7 linked regions of the Homo sapiens genome follow. The protein of the gene in region 3 interacts with the protein of the main gene of each other region in a biochemical or structural test. Each region holds a gene or a part of one and is shown on either strand. Other genes may lie near its edges. The genes, in order: ZFAND5, RAD51AP1, LRRK2, CDC42EP3, NDUFAF7, BAG2 and STK3.

Evidence for each region.
Region 1: the proteins of LRRK2 (region 3) and ZFAND5 form a complex in vitro, tested with the Homo sapiens proteins (one large-scale study listed by BioGRID and IntAct).
Region 2: the proteins of LRRK2 (region 3) and RAD51AP1 form a complex in vitro, tested with the Homo sapiens proteins (one large-scale study listed by BioGRID and IntAct).
Region 4: the proteins of LRRK2 (region 3) and CDC42EP3 interact on a protein array, tested with the Homo sapiens proteins (2 studies listed by BioGRID and IntAct, with this or other methods).
Region 5: the proteins of LRRK2 (region 3) and NDUFAF7 form a complex in vitro, tested with the Homo sapiens proteins (2 studies listed by BioGRID and IntAct, with this or other methods).
Region 6: the proteins of LRRK2 (region 3) and BAG2 form a complex in vitro, tested with the Homo sapiens proteins (2 studies listed by BioGRID and IntAct, with this or other methods).
Region 7: of the proteins of LRRK2 (region 3) and STK3, one has a biochemical effect on the other in vitro, tested with the Homo sapiens proteins (one large-scale study listed by BioGRID).

Annotation. Positions count from the first base shown.
Region 1 is NC_000009.12:72,358,709-72,362,208, forward strand, and holds part of ZFAND5 (AN1-type zinc finger protein 5), read right to left. Parts: intron 2,080-3,500; 5' UTR 2,071-2,079; coding exon 1,920-2,070; intron 1,514-1,919; coding exon 1,402-1,513; intron 814-1,401; coding exon 710-813; intron 1-709. UniProt on the Homo sapiens protein: Involved in protein degradation via the ubiquitin-proteasome system. May act by anchoring ubiquitinated proteins to the proteasome. Plays a role in ubiquitin-mediated protein degradation during muscle atrophy.
Region 2 is NC_000012.12:4,555,890-4,558,218, reverse strand, and holds part of RAD51AP1 (RAD51-associated protein 1), read right to left. Parts: intron 1,867-2,329; coding exon 1,717-1,866; coding exon of another isoform or gene 1,669-1,716; intron 1-1,668. UniProt on the Homo sapiens protein: Structure-specific DNA-binding protein involved in DNA repair by promoting RAD51-mediated homologous recombination.
Region 3 is NC_000012.12:40,322,497-40,325,996, reverse strand, and holds part of LRRK2 (leucine-rich repeat serine/threonine-protein kinase 2), read right to left. Parts: coding exon 3,487-3,500; intron 2,838-3,486; coding exon 2,691-2,837; intron 1-2,690. UniProt on the Homo sapiens protein: Serine/threonine-protein kinase which phosphorylates a broad range of proteins involved in multiple processes such as neuronal plasticity, innate immunity, autophagy, and vesicle trafficking.
Region 4 is NC_000002.12:37,661,643-37,665,142, forward strand, and holds part of CDC42EP3 (cdc42 effector protein 3), read right to left. Parts: intron 1-3,500.
Region 5 is NC_000002.12:37,238,158-37,241,657, forward strand, and holds part of NDUFAF7 (protein arginine methyltransferase NDUFAF7, mitochondrial), read left to right. Parts: intron 1-3,420; coding exon 3,421-3,500. UniProt on the Homo sapiens protein: Arginine methyltransferase involved in the assembly or stability of mitochondrial NADH:ubiquinone oxidoreductase complex (complex I).
Region 6 is NC_000006.12:57,182,326-57,185,825, reverse strand, and holds part of BAG2 (BAG family molecular chaperone regulator 2), read right to left. Parts: intron 2,049-3,500; coding exon 1,636-2,048; 3' UTR 1-1,635. UniProt on the Homo sapiens protein: Co-chaperone for HSP70 and HSC70 chaperone proteins. Acts as a nucleotide-exchange factor (NEF) promoting the release of ADP from the HSP70 and HSC70 proteins thereby triggering client/substrate protein release.
Region 7 is NC_000008.11:98,815,689-98,819,188, forward strand, and holds part of STK3 (serine/threonine-protein kinase 3), read right to left. Parts: intron 1-3,500. UniProt on the Homo sapiens protein: Stress-activated, pro-apoptotic kinase which, following caspase-cleavage, enters the nucleus and induces chromatin condensation followed by internucleosomal DNA fragmentation.

The sequences.
Region 1 (3,500 bases), on a different chromosome or scaffold from region 3:
ACTGTATAACCACTGACAGTATTTTTTCACAACAGAAGTTTTATATTGCATTTAATCAGCACTCTGCCAAAAAAGAACAAATTGATAAAATAAGCTACGTGCACTATATAAAGCACAGAAATCTTTTTGTTCTAGGGCCTAGTACAGGTAATTCAAGTCAGTCTTCTTCCACCATCAGGGCACTTCTGGTTGTGCTATATAAGCAAAGTTTCCAAAGTCACCATATCTCATGAAAACCAAAATGCCTTTCCACACTGAGTTTCAAACTCCCACAAAATATGATAGGAATATTGTACTTCAAATAAGTTCTAGTGTTCAAATATGTTGTTCTACTTAAAAGTTTTCCACAACATTGACAATATCAAAACTAAAGTTACTGCTTTTGGTTATAAAATTATTCCTTATACCCTTGAAATTTAACTTCATCAAGTTTTTAACACATCCAATCTCCAGATTACAGACTTTGCCCATTATGCACAAGGGTAGTGCAGGGGATGAGCAGAGAAGAAACTGAGAATAAATATGACTATTTTACACTTCAAGATACTCATACTCAAGATACTTTTAAAGATAGTAGTTCTTTGCTTGGCCTATATTTTATGGCTCTCCCTCCTCTTTGGTCCTTCAATGGGAAGGAAAGAATCCCCCCACCAGCCATTTCTTGCACTATCAAATTCAGAACTGAACAAGTATTAAATGAAAAACATACCTGGCTCTGACACCTCTGTTTTCGGGGTAGTTATTTTGTCCTCTCTTGAAATGCTCATTTCTGTCATTTGCTGAGTTACAGGCAAGGCAGCCACAGGCACATTTCTATTTGAGTTCAAGCAAACAATTTTTAAAGGTGTTAAGGGTACTTCTTGAGACAATGAATAAGTTGTCAGTTCAACTTTAAATTATAGAATATTTCCAAAATGAGCAAATGGAGCTAGATAATCTAAAGTTTAAAAAAAAATTGGATGCCCAGCACAAATGGTTGAGAAAAAAGTTTGATAAATGGCTCATGAACTCGAGGCTGCATTTTGTATAGGTTACCATATTTTACAACCAGCTAGGGATTTTTAGCTGTGCCTGTAACTTGTTTAAGGGCAAAAGGGCAGCTCTGCCAAAACACCTTGTCTGGCCCAATAATATTCTACAGTCTCACTCGACAATCCCTAAACCTCAATTACAAAGAAATAAAAAAGCACAGCATTTCCAACACAGTATCCTTGAGGGGGTTAGGGAGTCAGGTGTAAGTAACACACATCTTTACTCAATGACTTAAGAGTCATGTATTAAAAGACACTGAAATCCTCGATTGCAAAGCCAAGGGTATCTATTAACTTATTATTGGACCAGTACAGACATCTTGATTTCTTCTTTGTAATATCATAAAAACTCTGAAACGTTCAATCTTACCTTGATTTTTCAGATGTGCTGCCAGCAGCACCTTCACAGTTGTTTAAGCTAGTGTCTGCTCTCTGTACAGATGCAGAATCTGAGGTAGGACTGTTGGAACCACTAGCTGTTCCTATTTAAAAAAAGGATTTGTAAGGAACCAATGAACACTACAAAAACTCACTTAGTATCAAGACGTAGTAATAAATACTTGCATTTAATTAGGTTAGTGATATAAGCATTCACTGTGCTGTAATCCTATACTTGAGTATCCAAACAAAAAATATTAAAAAGTCAATCCAATGAACACAAGTGTGAAACAAAATAACCCCAAAAAAGAAAACTGAAAAGCTATAAGATGCTTGTAGATAGTCATTCATTCCTGATCAGTCATGTCAAGCACTTGGGCTGTTGCTTGAATTTCAAGCTCTTATCAGGTGTTCTCTCCATGTGCTTTCAGCATTCTCAGCCCCAATTCTTGGTTCTGTATTTCTGTCCACCAGTTCTTTCAAATGTGTTTTTCCTTGGAAATAACTTACCCATTGGGCTCATTCTGCCACTATTTTGCTGCCTCTGAAGATGTTCTTTGTAGCAAACTGAACACATTCCATTTGTCCTAGGATTTCCATAAAAGCCACATCCTGTGCTACACAGCATGGGCCCCGGGGTCTGGTTAGTCTCCTGAGCCATATTTTTCTGCTATAGATGAAACGAAATTTCAGAAATTAGTGTTATCACCAAAATATAGTCTAATATAATCATCGGTATACCGTTGTAATTGCTACGCAAGTTTTAACAAAAGCCCAAATTCCGTTAATCATTAAAAAGGGTGGGCAGAGATAATTATCAATATTTTGTTGCCTTTATAAAAGCAAACTGTTTTAGGACCAAAAAAAAACCCAAAAAGAAATTTTATCAATTATTAGGGTATTTTTACCTATCACTATTCTTGGTTTCAATTTATGAAAAGGTCTGTTAGCTCTCAGGGTTATGTTTTAATCAATTTGGGAAACTGGTATCTTTAACTTTTCACTCTGCTGCACTACAGGCAGACCATTTCAAATGTTTTTACTTAATTGGCTAATCACAATTATCACTGAGTCTTGATATTTATAGGTAGTTCTTTAAACTGGATGAATAAAGTTTTCTTAAAACACCTGTACATATCTGGGCTTCATCAGTAATTTGACAAATCTGCTGAGGCAGAGCATCTGTACTTTTTAATGCTGAAACATCTTCATATAAGGCTGAAAAGAGAACTGGTAGCCCTTCCTGCTACCCTGGCACCAACAAGTAAATCTCTAAGAATTTAGGGTCAGCTGGTTTACGAAACTCCTTTTACGTTCTCCATTTGAAGTTTCAGAGTATGTCAAAGCCAGTGCCTAGGAACCTGCAATACACAAATTATGAACCAGATTTCTCAGCCAAAGGCACTATTAATTTTAACAAGTGCTTGTCTTCCTCATACCAGAAAATAATAAAACCGTTCCAAGCTCAAATTCAATGTATTAAAGTCAATATATACACATAACCTTTAGTAATGGTTAATATTCAATGCTGGGTTACCAGAAAAAGCTTTACATAGCAAGCATTTGTTTCCAAGGAAGATTTGCTTTTCTAAAAGTCTTGTTAAAACGCTGTGCTAAATTATTAATAAGTTTTCCTCTGGATGAGAAAATACATATTAAAGAAAAATTATTTTAAAATAAAGTTGTGGAGGGTTTTCATGTCATCTTAAACATGTATAAGCATATGTACAAAAAGCATATTTGAGAGCATTTGCTTAAAGGAAAATTCGTGTGCTGTAACTTGTGGTCAGTCATTTTTTCCAACTACATACTAGAATACACTTTTTAGTGAGTTATTAAAAAACGATGTTTTAACAAGTATTAACTACCAAAATTAGAAGATGGGAGAAGGGGACTAACCAATTTTGACCTGGCCAGACCCCTGGTAATTATTCCCCAAAACATTTTATCTTCCCTTTTGTAAGTAAAAGTGCACCATACAAATATTAAGACAATCTAGCTTGTGTGGAGTGACCAAGATCCACAACTTACTTTTAACAACAGTATTAATTTAGTTGACACTGTCTCTTTAAATATTAACTGGAATTTAGC
Region 2 (2,329 bases), about 36 Mb from region 3:
ATTTTATTTTAATTTACACTTCCTTAATTACCAGTGAGACTGAAACTCTTCATATTTTCTTGTTGTATTAATAGTTCTTGGGGACACTGTTATATTTATGCCTCTGGCTAATTTTACTTTTGGGGTCTTGGTGGTCTTCTCCAGTTGTATAAGATAGGTAACAAACTGGCAATCTGAGGGCCAAATCTAGCTCTCAGATATATTGTTTTGGTTCACATGGTGCTAACAACAACAACAAAAAAAATCAACTTACAAAAATTAGCAGATTTCATATTAAAATCTGGATTTCTGGCTTCTCTTGAAAACAGCAATCAGATCTAGAAATACCAAGCCCATAATCTTGCATGGAAACAATACGATGGAGCTGAGTAGCAGCTGCTTCCTTCAAAAGGGTACGCGCTCCTGAGTCCAACAAAATTCCTACCCACGCAAGTCTACTGCATGGGCCCAATTCACTCGTTTACATCACTTGCCTGACTGTCACATGCTGACTTGATAAGCACTTTGTGCTTGATGACATTAACTCTTTATCCATCATTCCACTGTTTCCTTGTATTTTTTTAATTATGCTACTTTTAAATTTCTATAGTTATATCACTCCATTTAAATTTCCTTCATTGGGGAAGCATTAATTATTTTTAGAAATATACTAAGTATTACTCTTTGAATGATATGACATCAAGTAATTAATCTTCCCTCCTTTCCTTCTCCAAAAAGTTTTTAAGTCCTCATTAAAAATCTTAGAAGTTGTAAACCAGAATGGACTTTAAAGATTACAGTTGTTCCCAATATTTCACATGATGAAATGAAGACTCTGTAAGTTAAGTAATCATGCAGCCTCACAGCTCACGCCTAAATCTATGAATAGTAGTCAGCAGGGGAGTGAGCACTGTGGACCAATCAAGAGAGGCCCCTCAAAAGAAAAACAGGAGTAGAATTGGAAGGGCTCAGGCAAGGAGAGGGGACACATGAAGAAAGACACACCAGGCAGAGGAGGATTAAGAGAGGCCCTGAGAGAGGCATACATACAACATGTTTGAGAGACAAAAAGTGTTTCAATTTCACTGAAGTGGACGGTTCATGCAGGTGGATGACAGAAAGTAAAGACAGGACTGGTTAGGAAAGGCAGCAACAATTTGGGCCTGGATTAGGGTTTTAGTAATGTCAAGAAGGGTGAAGGTCAAAGAATTCTTGAAGGATCCATGAGACTTGGCTGTGGAGCAAAAGAAAACAGAGAAGTGAAATTTGTGAAAGCAAGAGGTTGAGTTTGCTAGGGCATTTGTTAAATGCTAGAATTGCCACATATAGATCCCAAGGCTTCAGTCAGACTGTGGAGGTCAGCAGGTCCTGAGCAAAAGATTTGCTGCCAGAAATACATACTTCAGGAATCTCAAATGTTTACACCCTTTAACACTGTAATTTTCCTACTAGAAATTTTATCCTAGGAAAATAATCAGTAATATGCCCAGAGATTTCTAAAATAAGGACATTTGCACTTATTGCAATCTTATTTATAGCACTGAAAAAATAATAAACCTGGATGTCCAATAATAAGGAATGGTTAAATAAATGAATATATGCAGCAACCAGGAACTTTGGTTTTGAAGAATATGTAATAATATGGGGAAATGCTCACACATGATGTTTGTAACTAGGAAAAAAATTTACCAGTGATAATTTTCCAAGCTCCTGTCCTTGATGATAAATATGCCATACCTGGTGGGACCCATTTAGGTTTCTTGCTTTCAGCTGAAGGACTGCGTATTTCTAATGGTTTCCTAGTGGTATCTGAAGACAGAGAAACCTTTTTTGGCAAGGACTGAGATTCTGATTTGACGGCAGCTGGAGCAGAGTCCACCGAAGTCACTTATTTGAAAAATATACGTAAAAATGTTTGTCATGCAGGAAGAAAAAGTAAGTCTAGCATATATGTGTAAAAATTATAAAGTTACATAATCATATAAAAAATAAACTTATTAATCAACAAACATTTATTGAGAGCCTAAGAATAGCCATCTTTTATGAGCATTAATATGCCAGGCAGTGTGGTAGGCATATCACACACATTACCTCTAACTCTTTACAACAACTCCAATACAGATATTACTATCCCCACTCTCAGAGAAGGAAACAGAGACGTTAAGCAATCTGCCTGTAGTCTGACAGCTAGTAAGCATCTAAGCTTAGAAACCAGATTTTCCTCCAAAATCCCATCCTTGTAACTAACCATTACACAATAGTGTCTCGTGAGTATGTGTCAGTGAGATTATGTGTCAGGCTCTAGGGTTAGAAACATGGCTCCTGCTCCCAAGGACTTTAAGGTTTAGTC
Region 3 (3,500 bases):
CACACCACTGAAGTGGAAATACCTGTCTTGGCTCTCCAGAAAAATAAATAGCTCCACAAAGAGGAAATGTACCCTGTGGCTTCTCAGACGCATGAACAGAATCCCATACATTTATATTTTAAAATATATTCACAAAACAAGTCTATTCATATCTATTAAGGTGGGTCGTATTACTCACTGCATAATAGTTACTGCTATCTTGGGAAAAAGAGTTACCAAAAGCCTGAATGCATTGCTGCCCTACAAATAAAAATGGAAAGAGGGAAAATTGAGAGAGGCATAACCTTCTCCAGATTACTCTAATATAAAGATGCTGGAGTCGCTACCTGTAAAATGTTTTTAGAAGGATACACCTAATTTGTTTAAATCACTGGTATTCAACCCCACCCCTTATCTTTGGCAACATCCGGAGACATTTTTGATTGTCACATCTGAGGGAAGGGGAGATACTACTGACATCTAGTGGATAGACAGAGATGCTGCCAAACATTCTGCAGTGCACAGGATGACCCTCGATAAGAAAGAGTTAGTTATCCAAGCCAAAATGGCAACAGCTCAAAGACTGAGAAACTCCTATCTAGACTGCTTTCTGTAAATGAACATGGGATTTATGGATTTATGGGACATGGGTCTAGAGAAGGGAGAGTAATCACAAACATTTTCCTATATGGGTAGCTAAACAGACTTTGCTTTTTTGTTTTTTGTTTTGTTTTGTTTTGAGACGCTCTGTCGCCTAGGCTGGAGTGCAGTGGCACAACCTCGGCTCACTGCAACCTCCGCCTCCCAGGTTCAAGCAATTCTCTGCCTCAGCCTCCCGAGTAGCTGAGATTACAGATGCCCACCACCACACCCAGTTAATTTTTTTGTATTTTTAGTAGAGATGAGGTTTCACCATCTTGGTCAGGCTGGTCTTCAACTCCTGACCTCGTGATACACCCACCTCGGCCTCCCAAAGTGCTGGGATTACAGGAGTGAGCTACTACACCTGGCCAACTAAACAGACTTTGTAAATGACGTTTCCACATACACTACTCAAAACGTGTCCATTCATCTGAAACACATTTTAATGCAGGAAAAAGAAATATTTTAGGGATCTGTGTCTGACAGTTTGGGATTTCTTCAGAGGAAGGATGCACCATGTCTGGTACTTTCCTGTATACCTTGAAGTCTGGGGTTAAGATGTAGGATTCAGCAAGGACAATTCAGCATTTTATGTTAACCCACTATTACTAATACATTAACTTCCTGAGTTCCAAAGCATTTAAATTCAACCTAAACTTCCCAATCAATGCCAATAAGAGGGGTATAAAGGAGTTTATTTAGCTTTAAATATCATGTCTCAAATTTTGGACAACTTTTTGCTAATAATATTATGTCCTGACTGACAGATCTTAGGCATTATTTCTGGGGTAATTTGATTAAAATTAAATGTATACACACAACAACAACAAAAACTAAACAAAGTAAGGTCAAAATTGTCTTCAAATGCTTTATATTAAATCAATCTAATGCATTTCATAGTTGTCCCAATGACTCTCAGGAATGTTTAAAACTTGAGTATGTCAGCCTACAGTTAATAATAACATACTGTATACTTGTAAATTGCTATGAGAGTAGATTTTAATAGTTCTCACCACATAAATATTTGAGATAATGTATATGTTAAATAGCTAAACTTCTCCATTCCACAACATATACATATATCAAAACATCATGTTGTACACCATAAATATATACAATTTTTACTTGTCAATTAAAAAAATTTGTACAAAGTATATCTTTTTTTAAAAATGATAACCGAGGAGCCAGACAGATCACAGCATCGCAGGTCTTGTAAAGACATTAGCTTTTATTCTGAGAGACATGAGAAACCACACATGTAATCTACAGAATGACATACAGTAACATATGTTGACTGTTTCTTTCCCAAAGTAGTTATAATGCATACACTTTTCATCTTCTGAAGTGTATGAGCATGTTTTAAAAACATCTTTTAGGCCCAAAAATCCATGTGCAGGAAGTCAAGATACAAATGAGAATATTGAAACATGGTTACCATGACTTCACCTTTTCTCAATGAGCACCTAAACATGCTACATGAATTCAATGATTTCCATCATACTCTACTGAAAATCACTGATTGAATTCACGGAACCAAGAAATGTAAATTGTTCAGCATATCAAAAAAAAAAAAAAAAGTATTTGAGTATGTCACCATGTAACACTTTTGACTTTAATTTCAAGGCTTTTAATGAATATTTCTATGAGAATTCAGCATTGTCACACTGAGTCATAAAACCCCTGCTATGGCTACACTGAGGTGTGCTTCCTTTACCTATTCTGTCATTTTATAAAATATGGCTGCTTCACTTAACTCACCTGAAAACTGTCTTATTTGCCTCCCATATCCCTGGCAATTAAGGCAAATACAAAGATATATTTCATAAATATTTCTGCTTCCATGATAATCTCATCCTCATCTTGATCCTAGTCTACATGATTATGTGCAAAACAAATTCCAGATCTGTAATATTATATTCCTTTAAAATATATCATTCCAAATACAAAAATTATAACAAATATATGAAGACAGTAAAATCTATGACAATATAATTATGAAATCTATTTTCTAAATTATAAGGAGAAAATTACATCCTAATTTTTATTCTCAAATTAACAAAAAGAATTACCTAGGAGAAACTCTGGAGCTTGTTCAAATTCCAACTCATCATTATTCAACATAATATTTCTAGGCAGGTCAGCCAAAATCAAGTCAGGGGCAATCTGAGATATTGGAATGGTGAGCCTTGGTTGATCTGGATTTACTAAGAGATCTCCTGAGAAGTAATAAAACATTTTTTAAATAAAAACAACATTTAAGGAGATACATAAATTTGTGGTTTTGATGTGAAAAAATAATGGAATATTTTCTATAATTTCTAATCCCTCCCTTTCTAACCAATCCTATATTTCTCTAGGAAATTTGAGAACATTTTAAAGATTCACTTAGTATCTATCTACTTGGAATTTTAAAAACTTATTCCTACGTTCACTTGTAGAATTCTGAACTGCTGCAGACTACCAGACATCTGACTAGAAAGTTATCTACTCTCTGCTTTTGCCACATTCATGAAGCTGCAGCTGTTATTATATGGCAGACATGTTGGTAAATTAGGTCCATGTATTGTCTATTTGAATCTTTATAACAGTTCTATGAGATAGATGTGGTTGGTATTCCGGTTTCACAGATGAGGTTATGTTGCTCAATAAGCCAGCATTCAAACCCTCAAATCAACATTTTCTGAATCTAGAATACAAGATTTTATTGGTAATAAATATAATTCAGTTTTCTGAACTGTCCCTATAATTGAATATACTATTTTTCAACTCATCCCTTATGGATAAGAATATTTACATTTATTAAAAGTCACTTCATAAGTATTGAAGGATCACTTAAAAGCATTTGTAAGTTGTATCAAAACATACCTTCCTCTGCTTTC
Region 4 (3,500 bases), on a different chromosome or scaffold from region 3:
ATAAACTGGACGGCAAGGCTACCGGGAGCTGACAGCACGAGGAGGTGGCTGAAAAAGTCATAGCCATCTGACGGACTCTGGACAGACCCCACCAGAATTAGTGATGTATGAGAGAAGAGAAAAAACAAAAGGGCATGTTGTTATTTTCTTAAATACGTGATAAGTAGGGCCAATCTCTCTCCTTTTTAACCAAAGAAATTATGTTATTATCTGTTTATATATCAGGCTTAAGATTTTCTTTTCCTTGGCTTAAAAAAAAGTTCGACAGAGCTGGGCCTAGGAGGAAGATTCATGCTCTGTGTCACTTAAACACTTAAGGCCTTGGTTTTATCATGTCAGAATGAGACTGGGGCTGAGATAAGGTCCCTTCCATCTGTCAAATGGTAGGGCTCTGTGATTCTATTTGCAGAAACATCTAGCGTCTAGGAAGTTTCCAAAAAAGAAAAAAAAAAAGTAATGTTTTTAAGGAAAGTAAGACTAGCCTTAGAATCAAAATACTTTTTACCAGCGAATACAATTTTCATCACCCTTTCCCATCCTTCCTGGTATTAAATTAAGGGTCCTGAGCCATGTAGTGACTCCCTTTGGGAGCTTCAGTGTCCCCATCTGTGAAGTGCAAATGGCAAAGGTGGGAGTCTTCCTGGGTAACAACGAGCATAAAGTGCTTGGCAAAGCACCTGGCAGGCAATGAGCCCATATCAATGGAAGGGGTAATGTTCATTATAAATTACCCCAAAAAGCTGGAGCTGCATAAGGAAGAAGATGAGCTGGAAGCTCATGGTGGGGATTCCTTTTAACCTTACTCCTTTTAGACCTTGGGATCTGGCCACCTAAACTGATTGTTTTAAATACAGTGTGAAAAACTCCCAAATGTTCTGGGTTCAATAGTCTAATTCCCCATTCTGAAAAAAGAACGGAATTTGAAAGAAGTCCCTGCTTTACTCCCTGCACCACCCTGAGAGACCTCTCTCTGAACCTCACTCCCCCAGGCTGGCAAGTAAAGCACCACCATCCCAGGGTGAGCCCACAAGGAATATAAAACAAATCCCCATCACCAGCATAAACTTACACTAAACTTAATAGAAGGCCAAAAATCAACACTCTTTAGGAAGACATTTCATTCTGAAGCCGTCTGAGAGCAAGAAAACAGGCTCTAGTTGGTGCTGCGACATGCACAGAGTGAGCCATGTGCCTCTCGCCAGTTCAACCCATGGGAAGCCAGCTTTAGAAAGCCTTTCACAGTCAGGTGCGGTGGCTCACACCTGTGATCCCAGCACTTTGGGAGGCCGAGGCGGGCGGATCGCCTGAGGTTAGGAGTTCGTGACCAGTCTGGCCAACACGGTGAAAGCCAGTCTCTACTAAAGATACAAAAATTAGCTGGGTGTGGTGGCGGGTGCCTGTAATCCCAGCTACTCATGAGGCTGAGGCAGGAGAATCTCTTGAACCCGGGAGGCAGAGGTTGTAGTAAGCCAAGACTGTGCCACTGCACTCTGGCCTGGGCAACTGAGTGAGTGAAACTCGGTCTCAAAAACAAAACAAAACAAAACAAAACAAAAAAAACAAACCAACCTTCCATGTGCCTCCCCAGCCCCTGGCTGGTCCCTCATGTGTTCAACAACAAACATCCATGGAGGGCCTACTAAGTGCCAGGCACTATTCTAGAAGTTGAGGCCGCAGCAATGATGCACTCCACTGTGGAGAGACTGACGCTAATATAACAAATAAATAAATGGCTCATGTTTATTTATTCGTTAATGGCTGGCGAGAGGTCTAGGCAGCAATAGGAAATACAAGGACCCTTACTCTGTGCTCTAAGTGGACACATGGGTGCCAAGTTGCCTCAGTCACTCCCAGGGCACGAGAAAGCATTGGTGGGGGTTGCCAATCTCTCCGCGGAGATCTTGAGAAGGTTCCAGCAGGGGCTTGACCTATTTCCACAGGGCCCGCAGATGATCTCTATCACCACAACCAAATGACTGGGGTGACTCCCCTTGCATTTGAATGTTCTGTAGCCTGGGAAGGAGTAACTTTACTACAGCAGGACTTAAAAATAAGCTAGTGTGGTGGTTAATACTGAGTGTCGACTTGATGGAAGGATGCAAAGTATTGTTCCTGGGTGTGTCTGTGAGGGTGTTGCCAAAGGAGATTAACATTTGAGTCGGTGAATTGGGAGACACAGACCCATCCTCAATCTGGGTGGGCACCATCTAATCAGCTGCCAGCGTGGCTAGGATAAAAGCAGGCAGAGGAGGCCGGGCGCGGTGGCTCATGCCTGTAATCCCAGCACTTTGGGAGGCTGAGGCGGGCAGATCATGAGATCAGGAGATGGAAACCATCCTGGCTAAGGCGGTGAAGCCCCGTCTCTATTAAACATACAAAAAATTAGCCGGTCGTTGTGGAGGGTGCCTGTAGTCCCAGCTACTTGGGAGGCTGAGGCAGGAGAATGGCGTGAACCTGGGAGGCGGAGCTTGCAGTGAGCCGAGACTGCGCCACTGCACTCCAGCCTGGGCGACAGAGTGAGACTCCATCTCAAAACAAAACAAAACAAAACAAGCAGGCAGAGGAACGTGGAAGGACTAGACTTTCTGAGTCTTCTGGCCTTCATTTTTCTCCCGTGCTGGATGCTTCCTGCCCTCACACATCAGACTCCAAGTTCTTCAGTTTTTGGACCTGGACTTACACCAGTGGTTTGCCAGAAGGCTCTCAGGCCTTTGGTCACAGACTGAAGGCTGCACTGTTGGCTTCCCTATTTTTGAGGTTTTGGGACTTGGACTAACTTCCTTGTTCCTCAGCTTGCAGACAGCCTATTATGGGATTTCACCTTATGATCATGTGAGTCAACACTCCTTAATAAACTCCCCTTTATATATACATCTATCCTGTTAGTCTTGTCCCTCTAGAGAACCCTGACTAATACAGCAAGTAAGCGACAAAGATTTCTGACCTGACAACAACTGAGGAGATATGCTACAGAAAGAATCAGATAGTATAGCAAGGGCTATACTGCCCACTTTGTCATTAAGTCCTACTGCAGCAAAGATGAATGACAAGATAAATGAGATTCAGTCCCTATCCTTGAGGAGCCGGTAGTCTAATTAGGCAGGCACTTGCGTCAATCAGGAACATGGATGGAGTTGGAGGCCATTAGTCTTAGCAAACTGACGCAGGAGCAGAAAACCAAATACCGCATGTGCTCACTTGTAAGTGGGAGCTAAATGAGAACAAATGGACACAAAGAGGGAAACAACAGACACTGGGGCCTAATTGAGGGGGAAGGGCGGGAGGAGGGAGAGGATCAGAAAGACTAATGATCAGGTACTATGCTTAGTACCTAGGTGATGAAATGATCTGTACATCAAAACCCCGTGACATGAGTTTACCTCCGTAACAAACCTGCACATGTAGCCCCGGACCTAAAAGTTAGGCCTATTACTGGATTTCACCTTATGATCATGTGAGTCAACATTCCTTAATAAACTCCCCTTTATATATATATAAAG
Region 5 (3,500 bases), on a different chromosome or scaffold from region 3:
GGCCAGGCATGGTGGCTCAATCCTAGCACTTTGAGAGGCCAAGGTGGGCAGATCACAAGGTCAGGAGTTCGAGACCAGCCTGACCAACATAGTGAAACCCCGTCTCTAGTAAAAATACAAAAATTAGCTGGGCATGGTGGTGTGCATCTGTAATCCAGCTACTCAGGAGGCTGAGGCAGGGAATCGCTTGAACCCAGGAGGCAGAGGTTGCAGTGATTGCTGCAGTGATTGATTGCAGAGCTGAGATTGCGCCATTGCACTCCAGCCTGGTGACAGAGCGAGACTCCGTCTCAAAAAAAAAAAAAAGTTTAGGCTGGGCAAAGTGGCTCATGCCTGTAATCGTAGCACTTTGGGGGGCCAAGGTGGGAGGATTGCTTGAGGCCAAGAGTTCAAGACCAACCTGGCCAACAAAGCAAGACCTCGTCTCTTTTTATATTAAAAAAAAAAAAAGCAGAAGGCATAAAGCAAAAGATTAATATTTCATTTCTTACATTAAAATTAAAAACTTCTTGCTCTACAAATAAACTAGCAGCTTTTTGTTCTTCAGAGACCCCATTAAGAGAGTGATTAGACAAGCCACAGAGTGGGAGAAGTTATTTGTAACACGTAACCAACAGAGAACTAGTAGTTAGAATTATTTAAATAACTCCTTTAGGTCAGTAAGAAGACAGATAACTTGAGAAAAATCAGGCCAAAGATGTGAACAAGTCCATTCATAAAAGAGGAAAATACAAACGGCTAAAAAAGCAAAAAAAAAAAAAAAAAGATTAGTCACATTGGTAGTCAGGAAGATGAAAATTAAAATCACAATGAGATACTACTGTAACCCTTGCCAGATTAGAAAAAAAAGCTAAAAGTCTGTCAACACCAAGTATTGGTGAAGATGTGGATTTGTGGATCAATGGCAACTCTCATATACTGCTTGTAAAACTATAATTTAGTACATCCTTTTTTCTTTCTCTTTTTTTTTTTTTTTTTTGAGACACAGTCTCACTTTGTCACTCAGGCTGGAGTGCAGTGGTACGATCTTGGCTCACTGCAACCTCTGCCTCCCAGGTTCAGGCGATTCTTGTCCCTCAGCCTCTTGAGTAGCAGGGATAATAGGCGTGGATCACTACACCCGGCTAATTTTTTTATTTTTAGTAGAGAAGGGGTTTTACCATGCTGGCCAGGCTGATCTTGAACTCTTGGCTTGAAGTGGTCCGCCTGCCTCGGCCTCCCAGAGTGCTGGGATTACAGGCATGAGCCCCCGTACCCAGCCTTGTACAACCTTTTTGAAAAGCTATTGGCCATTATCTATTAACATCAAAGTTTCTTATATTGTATGACCCAGCAATTTTACTGCTAGTGATATACCCTAGAGAAACTAGTGTATATGTGTACCAGGAGACACATACAAGAAGATAGCAGCATTGTATAAAATAGCGGAAAATAACAGCACAAATGCCCATCGGGGGGTAAATGAATCAGTTAATTGTGGTATAGTCATACAGTGGAATACGAAGTACTGCAAGAATGCGTGAAATCACAGTGGAATATAACAGTGTTCAACATGAAACAAGATGTGTGAAAGTAGCAGTTTGCAAGAGTTCGTATCATATGATTGTATTTATATAAAATCCAAAAAATAGTCAACATTAAACAATATGTATTTGGTGATAAAAATATATTTAGTAACATTTATAAAGAAAAGTCAGGGTGTTATTAACTCAAGATTCAGAATGGTGGTGACTTCCAAGGGTAGAGGGAGTCCACAGGGGCTTTGGAGATAAGGTCATGTCCCATTTATGGTAGATATTCTCTCTTGTATCATTGTTTCTATCAGTCTACGTACTATTTTATGAAAACATTAAAAAGGAGGACAGTTGTTTATAGTACCTGATAAGTAATAGTATTTATTAAACTTTTGTAGTTTTTAGTATTTTGGAACTCATTAGTGTTTTTGAGTTTATTTTATATGTACTTGACAATTCAATGTAAAAAACAAACATGGCTGGGCGCAGTGGCCCATGCCTGTAATCGCAGCACTTTGGGAGTTCGAGGCTCCCAAAGTTCAAGATCAGCTTGGGCAATACGGTGAAACTCCATCTCTACAAAAAATACAAAAATTACCCAGTCGTGGTAGCATGCGTCTGTGGTCGAAGCTAGTTGAGGGGCTGAGATGGGAGGATTGCTTGAGCCCAGGAGGTTGAGGCTGCAGTGAGCTGTGATTATGCCTCTGAGTAACAAAGTGAGACCCTGTCTCAAAAAAAAAACCAAAAAACACCAACACATACTCAATATAAATTTAAATTTCTTGATGCTTTATGGTTTTTGCTTTAAATTAGAAATTAAAGGATTTAAAAAATATATAAAATATATAAACATATGACAAATAAGAATCTTGATTATTTGGGTGAAGAAAGAAAACAAAATCACGAATTTAAATTTCCAGGGCTCTATTTTATGTTTTTCAGCAAGGTCATTTGAATATAAAATATTTAATAAGGACCTCAAATCATATTCTCTTGTTCAAGTACTTTAAAAGTTGATTCCAGAGCCCTTAAAATGTATGAAGGATGCTTTTCCAGACTGAGTCATAAGAAGTCCTAAAAGCCAAAGAATTTAAAGGGTTGTAAAGCAAATAGCCAGAGAAGTGTCAGACCTGTTTTATTTTTGATGTTACCTTCTGAAGGAATTTCTCCTGGGAAGTTTTTCCATTTGTATTTCGATCTCAAAACTAAATTTGGAAAAATCATCTTGTTCATATTATCAGTCTGGATGTGCATATTCATATCTCAAAAGTATTAATTGGAGGCAGATCACCAGTAGAAATTAAATTCAAATGAAAAATAATGTTGATACACTTTATGCTTTTGCTATTGATTTTTTAGCCTTAAAAGATTGGTAAAATATTAGTATTTTCCTTTTTCCCTTGCATGTTTACAACAGTGAAAAAATGTGTAGCTAAATATAGATTGAAAATGTGGCAGACCCCCGAGTTAAGCAGTCAGGTTTTCAGTACCATTCAGATTTGGTTCTTTGAGGTTAGAGTTCTCATCATCTCAAAGATGAGATTACTTCCTAGACCTAGAGATGTTATCAAATCAAGGCTGTGTACATTTTATTTCCTTGGTCTTTTTTTAGACTCCATAATCTGAATCATTGTTTTTATCAGATGCCAAATCTTTTATTTTCATTTGTTAATCATAATTTATCATTAGGAAACCAAATTGTGCATTGTTCATTTCTTATTTAGATTATGCTTAATAACTAGTAGGTTAGGATTCTTATAGACTGCTGGAGAGTGGCTTGGGTAAGGAACACATCTCTCTGAAATATTACCTCTATTGTGACATGACTAAATCATTGATGTAAATGATTAGGAAACTTAAAACCTACTTAACACATTGTATTTTTTTTTCTTCTTTTGGTATTTAGGTGTTCACTCAACTTGGATCTGTGCTGAAAAATTGTGACATTTCAGTACATCTGGTAGAGGTAAGCCAAAAATTAAGTGA
Region 6 (3,500 bases), on a different chromosome or scaffold from region 3:
AGAGTGGAAGGGATTTACGGATGCTGACAATACTTGAGAACCTGAAGAAAACATGACTATCCATTTCTTAATTTTCAAAAAGCTGGTCAAGAAAAAAATGATGCACACAAAAAATCATCTCACAGTCTGATGACAGCAAATCAGTCTGCTAACAAACCAAGTGGCTCTGCCATAGATAGAATTAATGTTTCCCATGAAATGCAAAGATTTAAATAAGGCAGAGTTGGAGCTGGCAAAGGAAGTAACATGAATGTCTTCAGATTGTAACTGCTTTTTATAAAGAGACTAACTTGGCATTTTTGTAGAGAAAATGAAGTTTGATATTGCTTGCATTGAGAGATATATACATACATAAAGTCAGTTTGGATCTTGATTTGGTTTTTCAGTGTGAAGAATACCTACATTCAAATAAAAATTGATGTGTTCATTTCAAAATAGTATCCAGGGAAGTTGTTGTGGTTTTTGTATATCAATAGGACTAGTTACTTTGAACAAATAAGTGTTCTCTAGTTGCTTCACACTTTATCAGATAAAAGAAGAATCAACACACTGGTCAACCTTTTTAGTAAACAAAATGCAAACTAGGTATTAATGCTCAGTGCTGGAAATATTTCAGTGAAATAGCTATATTTTAATTACTGAAAAAAGTATAAATTGCTGTAACCTTTATACAAAAAAAGTTTAATATGTGTGAGGCCATGAAAACGTCTATATCCTTTGACCCAATATAATTCACTGCTGGGCCTTTATACAGAGAAAAACAAAAATGAAAGAAGGAAAAAGTCCTGTGTACAAAAATATGTTGCAGTAATAGCAACAAGTTGGAAACAACCTAAATGTCCATAAAAGAGGAATGGATAAAGATATAACTACACAAAATAGAGCTCATTAAGTTGACAATTAAGCAGACTTTATATCAGCATCTAACTTTTTTAAAAAAAGGCAAGTTACAATATAGGAATTTTAGAGAATTGATGCATTTGAGAAAAGATGAAGCAGATAGATATATAATTGTTCACAGTGGTAAATTATAGGTGGTTTTCTCACATTTTATGTCAGTTTCTTGTATATCAAAAAATACATTCATATTATGAGACACAGGAATCTTTACATCCAAAATAATTTGATACAGATGCCTTAACATTGCTGAATGAGACAACTTTGGAAAGATTCTTGTTTTGTGATTCCTTTTTACCCTCTAAGCACAGTGCTTTGTTAACACTGTGTGTGTAGTAAATGTGTGTGCTGCTTAAGGTAAAGAATTTCTAGTAAACTAAATGCCCAAGGTGACTGCGTGATTCCATGCCAGACAGGAAAAAGCAGTCATGCTTTTTGCCCCTAGCTGAACGTTTGTTTTCCCCACAAACTATGTATTCATCCACAGAATAGTGAAATATGCTAGATCCTAGTACAAGACAAGAATTCAATCTAAAAAATCTCTAGATAGATAATTAAAATATTGCTAGTTTTGTTATTCACAAAACTGAAGATACTTGATGGAATATTTTCCTCATCTGAAACAACTATCAGTGTCAACTAAGTGGTTATACCTAACAAAGAACTAGTTATCAATTAAAATAGTATTTTATCATTTTTACACCTTGTGTATTGTGTAAATGCTCTTAGGTTTGAAGACTAATTGAATCTGCTTTCAGCATTTTGTTGCAGAGTTTTGGAACCAGCTCCTTTAGAATGCTCTAATAGCTTGATGGCCTTGTCAGAGTTTTCAATATTTCTAAGCAGAGTCTCTAATCTTCTCTTAATTTTCTTCTGATCTTCAAGAGCACAGCCAATTACTATGGATTGAAACTTCTGATCAACTGGCCCATGTGGCACCTCAGATGAACATGCACTGTAGAGCGACATTAAATGACTCTTGGCATTTCCCAAATCATCCAGAAACTTATTGACCACCTCATCAATAATCCTTGTGGCATGCTTTAGGGATTCTTGCTGCTGGGGGTTTCTAATTGTTTCTACTGACACTTCAACGGTGAGAGTTCTTCCCATCAAACGGTTTGCAGTCAGATTTAATTCTTCTCTTTCTCCTAAAAATCAATATGAGATGTAAACTTATCTGTGTCAAAAACATTAAGGCATTTGTTTGTGACTAAATTTATTATTTTCTTTACCTCTGCCATGAAATTTTTTTAGAGATAAAAGCTGAAACTATAGCATGTAAGATTAACTGATGAAATGTATTAGATTACAGAAAGAGGTTGTAGAATACCACTTCCTGACAATCTGCATATATGGGATACCAGATGACTTCTCAAATTGGCATGTCTGCAAAAGTTTGGGTAGGTATGCATTTGTAACTGGGATGGAGATCAAGTCTTAACACTGTGAGCAGTAAGCACATATAGGGTTTATGCTGGGTAGAGCTCCAGAGATCAGATGTCCCAGATCTCTCCAGAACGACATGTGCATTTATCAGAATACAATGCCCCAAATTTTGGTTGAGAAAATGTAGCCACGATAGAAGATAAGCTGTCTTCTGTCGTCAATACTAGGCACTGACTTCATCCTTCTCCAGATAGAAGCAGGACAGTGGTCTAAAGTCTTGGCCAGCACGAGGAGCTCTATCAACATTTCATTATTTATATGAGAAAGTCAGCAAGCTCCTGCTTCTGTAACTTCCTAATTCATTGATCTTTGGGCAGGATAGCGTAGAGACTAGATCATGGCCTACCTATAGATGTGTAACAGTTTTGATCTGGATTTAGGTTGCTTACTTACCTCACCAGCCACTTGGCCCAGTACCATGTGGCCTGTGTGGCACCAAAGGAGCCCAAGTAGGAAGTCCAGTGCCAATAAAAGAAAATCAGAAGTGACCTATTCCTATTTCATGTTCTTCACATGAAAATGACAGCACAGGTTAGGCAGATGTCACATGCCTGTAATCCCAGCACTTTGGGAGGCTGAGGCAGGCGGATCACCTGAGGTCAGGAGTTTGAGACCAGCTTGGCCAACATGGTGAAACCCTGTCTTTACTAAAAATATAAAAATTAGCCAGGCGTGGTGGCACGTGCCTGTAATCCCAGCTACTCGGGAGGCTGAGGCAGGAGAATCGCTTCAACCCAGGAGGCAGAGGTTGCAGTGAGCCAAGATCGCGCCATTGCACTCCAGCCTGGGTGACGAGTAAAACTCCATCTCAAAAAAAGAAAAAAGAAAATGACAGCACATTTTTACATTCATGCCTTTTATTGGTCCTACAAGTTTCCTCATTTTCTCTGCATTTTGTCCCTTCTCTTTATGTTGTACCTCAATTCATCTTTTTTTTTTTTTTTTTTTTGGTCTCTACTTCTCTGCTTCCACTCTCTCACCCTCTTCCTCTGCTTTTTTAATCTCTTGCAGTCCAGTAACTTGTGAGGAACTGAAGTTAGGACTGTGAACCTGGGATAAAACACATGGCCTTACTGCTTGGGGCCAGCTTTTCTGAGCTTGCAGGCTTTTTCCTATCTCTCCTAGCCAGGGGCTTGGGGTAGAGAGCATGCTGG
Region 7 (3,500 bases), on a different chromosome or scaffold from region 3:
CCACCTTTGGAGAAAGACAGGGAACTAATTCGTTATCTTGAAAACTTGTAAATAAAAGGAAAGAATCAAACATTTATCCTGTCTTTCCTTTATCAACAGTACCACTGGGTAACTAAACAGAAGATGAGGGGAAGTTACTTTTTATAAAAACATTCCAATTAATAAATGAAAGCAAAATGATGTATTTAGAATTTCATTATATTGCAACACCCACTAACCATCCACAGCCGCTAACATCACAAAAAAGAAAGACAATTAGACATTATGATATTCCCATGGTCTTGCCAAACCCCATCTATATATATATATATATCACAATGCCTAAGGGATCGAACTTGAGTCTGCTCCATCTCTGGATCCAGCTGCACGTTTGCAGAAAATACAGAAGACAAAGGAACATGTTGAACTGACCTATATTAAGCAATCAGCAAAATCCAACTCTGGGAAACTAGTACAAACAACCTGGGTTCTCCAACAGGAAAAGGAAAAGGATGGAGGACTAAACTAAAGATTAAAAGTGACAACTCATATCAAAACTGCTTTTTGGGCTGGGTGCTGTAGCTCATGCCTATAATCCCAACACTTGGGGAGGCCAAGGCAAGACCACTTGAGCCCAGGAGTTCAAGACCAGCCTAAGCAACATGGCAAGACCCCATGTCTACAAATACACAAATTACCTGGGCATGGTGGCCAATGCCTATAGTCCCAGCTCCTCAGAAGGCTGAGGCAGGAGGATCCCTTGAGCCCAGGAGGGTCAGGCTGTAGTGAGCTGAGATTGCACTACTGCACTCCAGCCTCAGTGACAGGGCAAGATCCTGTCTCAAAAAACAAACAAACAAACAAACAAACAAAACACAACCTAGAGACAGTGTTTCCCTCTTGTTGCCCAGGCTAGAGTGCAATGGTGCAATCTCAGCTCACTGCAACCTCCACCTCCTGGGTTCAAGGGATTCTCCTGCCTCAGCCTCCCGAGTAGCTGGGATTACAGGTGCCTGCCACCATGCCTAGCTAATTTTTGTATTTTTAGTAGAGATGGGGTTTTGCCATGTTGGTCAGGCTGGTCTTGATCTCCTGACCTCAGGTGATCTACCCACCTCGGCCTCCCACAGTGCTGGGATTACAGGTGTGAGCCACCGTGTCTGGCCAAAACTTACTATTTCTTAATCATCAAGACTAACCTACAGTATCTAGCAATGCACATTTGGGTTATTACTACACAAGTCAGGAAAATGATTACTTATAGGGAAAGGCCACTGTGATCTATTTCTCAACCTGAGGGGTGATTACAAAGGTATCTGCCTTATAATAATTCACCAAGCCATACATGTGTTCTGTACTAATGTTTTATTTTGCAATAAAAAGATTTTTTTTAAAATAGCAGGTTACCAGCACACCTGAACATGTCAACACCTAAAAACGGCTAGATATGTTTTCCATTCTCTACTCTAACTGAGTGAAAACAATAGGATAAAAATAGAAATCAGGCCGGGCATGGCGGCTCATGCCTTTAATCCCAGCACTTTGGGAAGCCGAGGTGGGTGGATCACCTGAGGTCAGTAGTTCGAGACCAGACAGGCCAATATGGTGAAACCCCATCTCTACTAAAAATACAAAAATTAGCTGGGTGTGGTGGCACACGCCCGTAGTCCCAGCGGCTTGGGAGGCTGAGGCAGGAGAATTGCTTGAACCTATAAGGCGGAGGTTGCAGTGAGCCAAGATTGCACCATTGCATTCCAGCCTGGGCGACAGAGCAAGACTCCATCTCAAAAAAAAAAAAAAAATAGAAATCAGTGTGCATCATTTCCTCCCTACCCACTTCCTCTTCTAAAGGAACCACTTAATATCACATTTTAGGCCAATCAGATTCACTTTCTTGGGATTATGAAATTCCAAGAAAGAGACTATAGATATCCAAACCTGTTCTCCCGGTCTTTCCTCATTCCCCAAGTTGTTTCAATTCAAAACATAGGAGCCAGGATTGATTCTTTTTTTCCCCTCATTCCCCACATCTAGTCTATCAGCAAGTCCTTCATTTATAACTCCAAAATATCGCAAATCTCTCAACTTCTATCTCCACTGACTCTACCATCTCAAATCACAAACTATTCAAATAGTTTCCTAACTTGTTTCTCTTTTATTCTTAACCCTCTACAATCTACTCTACCCAAAGCAGCCAAAAGGATGTTTTAAAAACATAAACTGCTTAAAAACCTTTAATGACAGCACACAGAGCTCTGACTTAAATCCAAATTCCTTTCCATGGCCGGCATCATTGAATCCGTGCCCATCTCTCTGAGCTCATCTCTAGCCACTGTCCTCTTCTCCAATCCAGGCACACTGGTGTCATTTCAATTCCTCCCACACATTAAGCTCTTTCCCACCTCCAGGCCTTCTCATAGCTTTCCCCCCTGCCTGGAATACTTTTCCCTTGCTACTCACATGGATAACTTCTCAATGTCAGGTTACAACTTAAATATCACCTTCTCAGAGAAGCCTCTGCCAACTGCCCTATTAAGCAGGTTTCACCATCTTTCTCTACACACTACTTATATCTTTCATAGCTCAAGCTACAACAAGAGTGTATGTTATATGAGGGCAAAGAACCCACCTGTTTCATTCACCAATGAGCATCTGGAATGTGGAAAACAATTAATAATTACTGAATGTATGAATAAATGAGGAAATGAATGAAGTAAAGGCCGAATGCCAATTTTGCCATGAGTAGTGATCAGTAAGTAAAGAAAGCCAGTTTTCAGAAAGAACAGAGCAACACAACAGAGAACAGGAGACTATGTGGCTTGGTTCCATAAACAGAGTCAAGAAAATTAGCTGCCAATTATAAATTATAAATGTGTGTGTGTGTGTGTGTGTGTGTGTGTGTGTGTATCAAGATAGCAGAAACATCTGAAAAATTTACTCAATTCACCTCTATACTAAGATGTCTGGTATTATATAAATCTATAAACTAATTCAGAACTCAAAATAATACTACCTAAACTAATTATCATTAATGTTAACACTTTGTAATTCTCATTTTGCTATGAGTCATTTTTCAAGATATACTCCTATGATGTACTTTCAGAAATTCAAGGTAATCTTCATGTCGATATTCACGGTATGTATGCAAACAATGAATTTTTTTTGTTGTTTTTTTGAGACGGAGTCTCTGTCGCCCAGGCTGGAGTTCGGTGGCGCAATCTCGGCTCACTGCAAGCTCCGCCTCCCAAGTTCACACGATTCTCCTGCCTCAGCCTCCCAAGTAGCTGGGACTACAGATGCCCGCCACCATGCCCGGCTAATTTTTTGTATTTTGTTTAGTAGAGACAGGGTTTCACCATGTTAGCCAGGATGGTCTCGATCTCCTGACCTCATGATCTGCCCACCTCAGCCTCCCAAAGTGCTGGGATTACAGGCGTGAGCCACCGTGCCCAGCCCAATGAACGTTTTTGAGACAGGGTCTTGCTCTGTTGCCCAGGATGGAATGCATCCACACAATCATG